Linked DNA regions of Homo sapiens: region 1 is linked to region 2. A link means that fine-mapping ties the variant in region 2 to the expression of a gene that starts in the linked region. Tissue or cell type: whole blood. Region 2 holds a variant in brackets; the other region holds the start of a gene. All regions are shown on one strand. Distances are between the middles of the regions.

The links. PIP is the estimated chance that this variant, and not a neighbour inherited with it, causes the effect.
Region 1: it holds the start of CRIM1, and the variant in region 2 is fine-mapped to the expression of CRIM1 in whole blood (TOPMed, PIP 0.96).

What each region holds. Positions count from the first base shown.
Region 1 is chr2:36,353,569-36,357,959 of GRCh38, reverse strand. CRIM1 (cysteine rich transmembrane BMP regulator 1) reads right to left here and starts at 2,182. Exons shown (of 17, transcript NM_016441.3): 1 at 1,337-2,182. The coding sequence starts at 1,667. CRIM1-DT (CRIM1 divergent transcript) reads left to right here and starts at 2,390. Exons shown (of 2, transcript NR_037631.1): 1 at 2,390-2,872; 2 at 2,979-3,211.
Region 2 is chr2:36,303,461-36,307,851 of GRCh38, reverse strand. No RefSeq gene overlaps it. Among named protein-coding and RNA genes, the nearest start is that of CRIM1-DT, 50 kb to the left of the region's middle. The variant A/G (reference allele first, on the strand shown) is at 2,362.

The sequences.
Region 1 (4,391 bases), 50 kb before region 2:
GTGCGTATTTAGAGAGAATCACAGCACTGAAGCCTTTTAATAGGTCCATTGTTATCCTTAAGGCTGTCACCTCCTTTTTCAGTATCCCAGCATACTAAACAAACACACACAAAGATGCTTCGGAATAAACCGTTCCCTGGACGGTGCTGGCTGTGAGTAGTGAGGAAGGCACGCCGGGCAGAGGGCGCCTGTCCCTCCTCGCCGCCTCCCCAGAAACGAGGCTGCTGCGTGCGCTCTGCTCACTCGCCAGGATGCCCCCGGAACAGCATCATCAGCCCAACGTCAGCCAGAGCAGGGATCCCACTTTTAACTGATGCTTACCGAACCGTGCCCCCGTTAGCCACATCAAAATAACTCACTGCCTCGCTCTAGACCCCAAACCAGACCAGGCACCCTGAAGGCCGACGCAAGCGGGCAGGGATTAAAGCCAACACGCACTAACATTGGCTCCCCAACGAGAAAGACTCCACTAATCTAATCTGTTTCTCCCACCGTCAATCTCGACACCGCGGAGCACAATGCGTGCTGGAGAAGCCAGCAGAACAATCCCCGCTGTCAAACAAACAAAAAGGAGGAACCGGCAACACGACAGGAAACACGCGGGTATCTGATATTAAAAAGCAGCCACTAATAGCAACAACTTTTTACTCCCAGGTGCAACCCCCACCCCCCTTTCCTTTCAGGAGAGAAAGCCTTTGACCGTTTACAATGGGCAAATAAATGAGTAACCACCGTGTGTAACTTCCCCTGGGCTGACATATTCCGCGGCTGAAACTGATTTATCTGCGGAGGAGGAGGAAGGGGTGAAGGAAGAGCTCAAGGAAAAAATAATAAGAGTCACTCGGGGAGTGCGAGCTGGAGACACGTCTCCTCCGCCAACAGAAAAAGGACTTTCGCGGCCGGCGTGCGGCTCACGGTGCCACACTGCGCCAGTGCGGGGAGGGCGGTAGGGCCGGGCTCCCCGAGGGGCTCGCGCGCGGCAGAATCTGCAGTGCCCCCCGCCCGCGGCGCCCCCACCTCGGGGAGCAAGGCCGGGCCACCCAGTCCCAGCAGGAACGGCCACACGTGTGCGCGTCTGCGCGGGGACAGGGGCGATCCTCCACTCGCTCGCCCCCACCCACCATACCCAACCTCGCCCGCGACTGCCTAAGCGTCGGGGGGAACAAGGAGAGGGAACGCAGGGCCGCGGGGGCACTCTCCTGGGGGCGGCGGCCGCCCCTCTTCCCGCAGAGCCCTCTTTCCTCCAGAAAGTCTCGCCCAAACTTTGTTCGGCACAACCAGCGCCGAGGGGGCGGCGCAGGCCAGGTGGGAGGGGGCCCGCAGCGGGCGGCCGTACCTTCGCAAACGCCCGCTTCGTACTCGGTGAGGGAGTCGCCATTGAGCGGGGGGCGGATGACACAACGCAGCCCCCGGTCGCAGGTTCCGTAAATCCCGAAGGTGCCGCCGCAGCTCTCGTTCCTCTGGCTGGCGCACGTGTAGCAGCAGCCGCAGACGCCCTGCACGATGCTCCCCGGGCAGTTCCTGGGCTCCTCGCACTTGGACTCGTCACAGGGCAGGCAGACCAGCGCCCGGGTGCCGGAGCGCGCCAGCAGCAGCAGCAGCCCCAGCAGCGAGACCAGGAGGTGCCCGCAGCCGGCCAACCCCCTGTCCCCCGCCACCAAGTACATCCTCCTGCGCCGCCGCCGCCTCCTCCTCGCAGCCGGGCCGGGAGCGGGGCGGGCGCCCTCCCCTGCGCGGGGCACACGCGCCGCCGCCGCCGCACCAGCAGCCCGCGGTCCTCACCGCCCCTCTCGGGGCCCCCGGGGCGCGCCTCCCCTCGCGGGGCGAGGCCCCCGCCCCTTCTGCGGGCCGCGCCGACCCCGAGCCCACGAGCCTTGGCGCCGGCGGCAGCTTCCCCTCCTCCTCCTCCTCCTCCTCCCGGGAGGGAGGGGGAAAAAAGAAAAAAGTTTCCTCCCGGCAGCTCCGGTTCAACCCAAACTTCTGGCGCGGCGGCGGCGGTGGCTGCTGCGCTCGGCTCCAGCCCGGGCCGGCGGCGCCTCCTCCCTCTCCTCCTCCGAGTCGGCCGGCCCCGCAGCGGCGCAGCCTCCGGGCCGGTCCCCGCCTCCCGAGCTGCCGAGTGGGCGCGGTGGCGCAGCACAAGATCCGCGGCGTCCGCTCCGCGCGCCCCGCTCGCCTCACTCCTGCGCCGCTCCTCCGGGCGCTTGTTTATGGCTGGAGCCTCAGCCGCTCGGGCTGCGCCCTCCCCCATCCTACCTCCTCCCCCAGACCTTCCCCCCACCCCCACGCGCCGCGCGCCGCTCATTGGCTGCCCCCCCTCCCCGGCCCGGCCGGCCCCCTCCGCCTCCCCCTCCCCCTCTCGGGCGGCCGGGCCCTTCCTCCCTCCCTCACACGCCTCCACCTCTTCCCGATCTCCTCCTCCCCGAGCCCGGCGCACCGAGCCGGCCGTGCCACCGAGCTGCGGCTCTGGCCCCGGCGCCGCGGGTGCGCTGCGGATGGGCTTGGGGCGCACCCAGCGAGCAGCGAGAGTCGCGGTGTCCCGGGCGCTCGCTGGCACCGTGGCCGCAGCGGCCGGCCTGGGAGCCAGGAGGGCGAGGCGGCTGCACCTTCGGGGCCAGATTGGAGTTCGAAGAGTGGCGGGTACCCCAGAAGCTCGGGGCCGGGGCGATGGCTGCAGCCTCGGGAGGGTATCGCCGGATCGAACTCCGGGAAAGGGAAGCAAAGGCATGGAACCTCCGCACACTGGATGAGAATCCATCTTCCATTCGAGCTGGGAATAGACTTTGTGAAAGATATTATGTAATGGAGTCTCGGGAACCCTGAGACCTCTCCAGCGAAGCTGAAGTGAATTAATTAAGTGCTTTAAACGGTCTTGGTAAATATTCCGCGGGAGCTGGGGAGGACCGTTGGGATGGCTGTAGCTTGAGTTGAATTTTAACTGTCCTCATTCTGGGTTTTGTCGCTCTGCTTTCTGTGCCAAGGTGCTGTGTTACGGGAGAGAGTGACTGGAAAGTAACAAAGCTGAATCTTTCTCCCTGGAGTAAGGCCGAAGACTGGATTACTACACGCCTAGACGTGACACTACACCCATAGATCTCATGCATCATTAATGCCATATGACATTGCCATTTTCTTTCTCAGTTCACGGACAAAAGTGGTGGGTTTTCATTGTCTTCACTGATTGTCAATGCATTAATAAAGAAGATGTGTGGTACATAGTCTTTGTGATAAATCAGGTAAAGAAGCAACGGAAGTGATGCAAAATGCACGGTGTGGAGATGGTTTCTCTTCAGTGGTTGTCAGAAAAGGTTTTCGTAATGATGGCTCTGTCATTGATGGGATATGAAGTAGTAATCCGCTCCGTAGTGACCTACCATTCACAAGATGGGTACCAGGTGAATAACATTAATTAATTGACAAAAAGTGACTGTGGTCAATGGGGGAAAAAATCGATCCCGTGGCAGGTGTGACGTGGGAATGGCTGGCCCACCCTCTGATCCAAGATGGTCTGGCTGCAGGAAGGTGGCAGCCAAGTGGATTCTGAAAATCGTGACTAATGAACCGAAAGTTAATAGCTGGCAGTGCAAGGAAAGAGGAAACAAAGCTACCTTTGAAATGTTATGTTTGTGGAACAAATTCATACTTACGATAAATATTTTAGTTTAACCACTCTGTCTAATCCTGAACCCAAAAGCCAGAGTTACCAGTGGACTATTCCCCCATGATGGGCATCAGCAAACTAAACATTTCTCCTATCATATTTCTTTGTCCAAGGAGAGGAAGAGGCTCATTAATTATCATTGATTATTATAGGGCCATGAGGAAGATGTTCAACCGTGGAAAAGGGGAGAGAGCATTGCATTTTCTAGACGGGTTTAAAGAGTTGTTGCAATGAAATGATTCCTGTAGTTGGGTGGGAAGTCCGATTAGATGATCTCCAAAGGCCCTCATACCCTGTGGGTCCATAATAAGTGTTAAGTGGCAAAATCGTTTAAAATATGCTAGGTTTTCTATTAGAAAAACCGAAGAGACTGGGCGTGGTGGCTCATGCCTATAATCCCAGCACTTTGGGAGGCCAAGGTGGGCAGATCACTTGAGGTAAGGAATTCGAGACCAGCCTGGCCAACATGGTGAAACATGGTGAAACCCTGTCTCTATCAAAAATACAAAAATTAGCCGGGTGTGGTAGCGCATGCCTGTAATCCCAGCTACTCAGGAGGCTGAGGCAGGAGAATCACTTGAACCCAGGAGGTGAAGGTTGCAGTGAGCCGAGATTGCGTCATTGCACTCCAGCCTGGGCGACAGAGCAAGACTCTGTCTCAAAAACAAACAAACAAAAAAACTGAAGAAAAATAAAACACACATTGTTAAACATTGTTCTTTCTTGTCACCGA
Region 2 (4,391 bases):
GGGGAGATATATTTATAAACAATCTCAGTATAGTCACTTAAGGGCACTGCAGAGGGTATGATATGTGCAGGGTCCAACAGTAACTTAATTGTCAATCGTGCCTGTGTAGTGAAGCTTCCACAAAAATCGAAAAGGCCAGGGAGTTTTCAGATAGCCAAACACATGGAGGCTTACACATTCACATGCTGCCAAGTCCTCAGGGACAGGAGCTCCCACACTTGGGACCCTTCCAGATCTTGCCCTGTGAATCTCTTCATCTGACCATCTGTTTGGATTCATTAAAATATCCTTTGTAGTGAACCGATAAATGTAAAAAAAGTTTGTTTTTGCTGTGGTGGGTGGGTGTGGCAGGGTGGGAAACACTGAAGATATCAATGAAAAAGTAGTGATTGGGCTGGGATGTTAAGGATGGGTAGAATTTGTTAGGTGGGCAAAGAAGTATTGTTAGCATGAAAAAAACCACTGCCTATTCTTTTTATTTTAATTTTTTTGTAGAGATGGGATCTCCATATGTTGCCTAGGCTATTCTCAAACTTTTGGCCTCAAGAGAGACTCCCAGCTCAATCTCTCAAAGTGCTGAGATTATAAGCATGAGACACCATGCCTGCCCCTGATCACTGCCTATTCTAATTGCTTCAAGAATCCATGTGAAGGGGCAGAATTTGGAATTTTCAGAGCCAGTTCCTCCACCAATATGTGAGTCAATTTTTTTTGTTTTTGAATGAACATGGACTAGAAGAGGGAGTTGAACAGCATTGGGAAGTAGTTAGTTCTAACCGTGCTATTGTAAAATTTCCTTTCCTGAACTTACCATGTATAGCTCTTCTACATGCAGGTGTGTGTGTGTGTGTGTGTGTATCTAGACTTATATTTTTCTTCCTTTTGCTATTGGAAGATGGAGTACAGTATTACTGTGACAATATGTAATTTGATAAAGCACCAATCATATTTCTGATTATATTTATTATTTTCTTACCATAATTAATCAGTATTTCATTAGTATCACATTACATATGTGATATATATAATTATTGTTTACATGTTTAACTGCTGTACCAGCTGTGTGCTTCTAGAAAATGTATTGTTTAGTTTTTTGTTAAACAGTTGTTGTTTCCAGATGGAAACATGTCATCAATATACTTTATTAGAAATTTTAATTTGGCTGTGGCATTCACTAATCAGTATATAGTCAATTAATATTTAACAATTTAAAAAAATTGCATGAATTGCACTGAAATTCCCAGTAATATCTTGTTGCATACTCTGAGCATTGCTTCAAGGAACACTTCTTCAGACAAGAAGATATGGGGTCATATAAAATATCTGGAACAATTGCATGAAATTTGTGATTTTTAGAAAGTCAGATTTTCAAGATCGGTAAGAGTATCTGATTGCAATACTGATTTAATATGACATAATTTAATAAATGCATTAATAATTGGTCACTGAAGAGCATGTTAATTGATTTGTACATTTGCCCAACACAATATAAGGCAGGCAACTACATGCATGTAGACCATGCATTGACAAAGACAGGATGTTCTCTACATGTGTCTCTATATGTGTTATGGCCTGCATAGTCCCAGTGGGAGCTATTCTTTGAAGTTATAATTGAAGTCACTGGGACATGTTATTAGCTCTTAAAGTAATTGATTTACATAAAGCCTCAGAAAAACACTGAATACCTAATGCAAACCCATAGCTGTAGTGATGTTAAATGTAAATAGCCTCTGGGAACTCAGTTCATACAGAGTTTGACACAAAATGTCACCAGGAAACTTGTGCATCTCTGATGTGGGATCATAAAAGAATAAAAACTTTAGTTGATAAATATATGGAAGACCTGAGGATACTCCATGGTCATCGCAGTTATTCTGTGAAGAGCTGATCATGTGAGAAGACTAGTTTCCTTTGGGCAATGTGTGGAAGAAGAGAGTAATACAGACAGCATATTTGGAGTCTAGTGGGTTTTATTTCATTCCACATGGCATTAACATCGGCAGGAAGTACTGATGTTATATGGAAGCACTGATGTTCATATAGTAGTACTGACTTAATGTCTATCCACCTGGGTTAACGTTGTCGGTGGATGACACTGGCTTAGCATTTTATTTTTTTAATCACTAATCTGGATAATGTAATTATGAACATTATTGTGTGTGGACAGCACCAAGATGGAAGGACTTAACACTTCACAGCTCACATACAAAGAGCAGAGCATAATCTTTTGTGTCCAAAAACCTGAGAGCAGTTGCAAATCCTCTTCAGTGACCTAACAGTAGTCTGTGGGTGATCACTAAAATGAGAAAGTACAAGGTGCTACCTTCTGTAGGACCTACTGAGTTGTTAAGAATGACCTGC[A/G]TGACATTTTGTTCCAACTCAATAGATCTGTACTTAGTCAACATGTAAAGAGACAATAAAACATTGTTCAAAACTCTTGAACTTGCCCCCAAATTTCGGCTGTGTTTTGGTAAGCTATGAATATCTTTTTTCCATCGCTCTTTATTTCTTTCATAATACTTTGTCTTTGCTAGTAATTACGTATTTTTGTGTTTTGGATTTACTAGTTTTAAAAGTAGCGGGACTATGTCTTTTTAAGAAAAATGATCAAGGTATTCCAAGTATTCAACACTTAGTTTGTGTTCTGAGTTTTTTGAAGAATAAATGAGCTACATATTTACTGGCTCTTTCGCAGAAGCCTAGGATTCAGCAGGTTCTTCTTCAAGGACTCTAGTTTGAACTTGAGCCATGCTGACCACTGGGTTCAGACATGTCAGGCATGACTCATTTTTTAGATGTGGGGGAAGGCAGGTGGGAGACCAACGAGAGTCTGTGTCTATTTTGTTGGGATAACTTACATGGGAGGAAGAGCGAGGGAGGCATGGTCCCTAAGCCCTGTTTCCATGAGGGTCCTGTGAGACATAGGACATACATGATGTGTAATGTAAATACGCAAGAGACAATCACTTCTTCTTTCTAGAGCTGTTTTGGTACCTCAAGGGTTGGCATCTTTTGGGAGGGTACAGGTATCACAGGCATGAATGTCTCAATAGAGGAATGGTACCAGTGATGAAAGAGAGACACATTCGATGAAGTGGACATCAAGCAGAGGGTGAAGGAGAAGCAAGTGGCAGAAAGTGTGCATCCTAGACTGTCTCCTAATCCTGGCACATTTTTGGGCTTTCCCAGATATAAGTAGGGGAGGCTTTGACTTTTTAAAGTAAGTGGGAATAAAAGCCAATGTGCTGTGCATTATTTCTGTGTCCGTGACATTATCTGCACCCACAACTTCATGAAGTCTGGGGAAATGTAGGCAGCATTTCTGCCAGAACATTTTTTTAATGCCTTTCTAGCTCATTGGTTGGCAACCTTTTACTTAATAAGGCCAACTGACATCTTTGATGGTAACTAATTGTCTTCCAGACTTTTGGTCAAAAAGTTTTGGGTTGGAGATTCCATGAATTATGGCAAGTTTATTTCTAATTTTCCATGTTTGTTTCTTGAAGGAAGAAACAATAGCCTTGACTTTGTACTCAAGAAGAATGTAGATTCTGGGTGTGAACTCCTATCCTAGCTGGGAAACTCCAGGAGGGCAAAGTCTGTGTCTTAACTCACTTCTGTATCCTCAGTGCCTACCCAGCTCCATGTCTGGTAAACAGGAGATGTTCAGGAAATCTTTTTTTTTTTTTTTTTTTTTTGAGATGGAGTCTCGCTGTGTCGCCCAGGCTGGAGTGCAGTGGCGCAATCTCGGCGCACTGCAAGCTCCGCCTCCTGGGTTCACGCCATTCTCCTGCCTCAGCCTCCCGAGTAGCTGGGACTACAGGCGCCCCGCCACCACGCCCAGCTAATTTTTTTTGTATTTTTAGTAGAGATGGGGTTTCACCGTGTTAGCCAGGATGGTTTTGAGCTTCTGACCTCATGATCCGCCCGCCTTGGCCTCCCAAAGTGCTGGGATTACAGGCGTGAGCCACCGTGCCCAGCCAGGAAATCTTTTTGGAACAATGTTTTATTCTACTTCATAACCATCACAGGGCAGAGTACGTAGAATCATTATTTTCATGGAAAAAGAGAAATAAAAAAGCAAATGAGGGACTCAGCGGATCCCACAATGCTAGATGTCTGAATTTCTAAAAAATCATTTTCCCACATCTCTGCTCTCCACTTTAACAGCTTGATGCTCTGACTTGCTCCCACCTGTGCTCCTGAAGATTCCACCCTACCTGTCAGCTGGGTTCCTGTCAGCAGGCAATGTAGCCCATGCAGGGAACATTCTGAAACTTGCTTAGTGCCTTTTTCCTCTACATGTTATTCCTCGTACTAAGGATTTTAGGTTTAAATTGACTTGCGTGGGACACTCACTGAGATTTGTAGAGAGAAATCCCTGGCTAGAA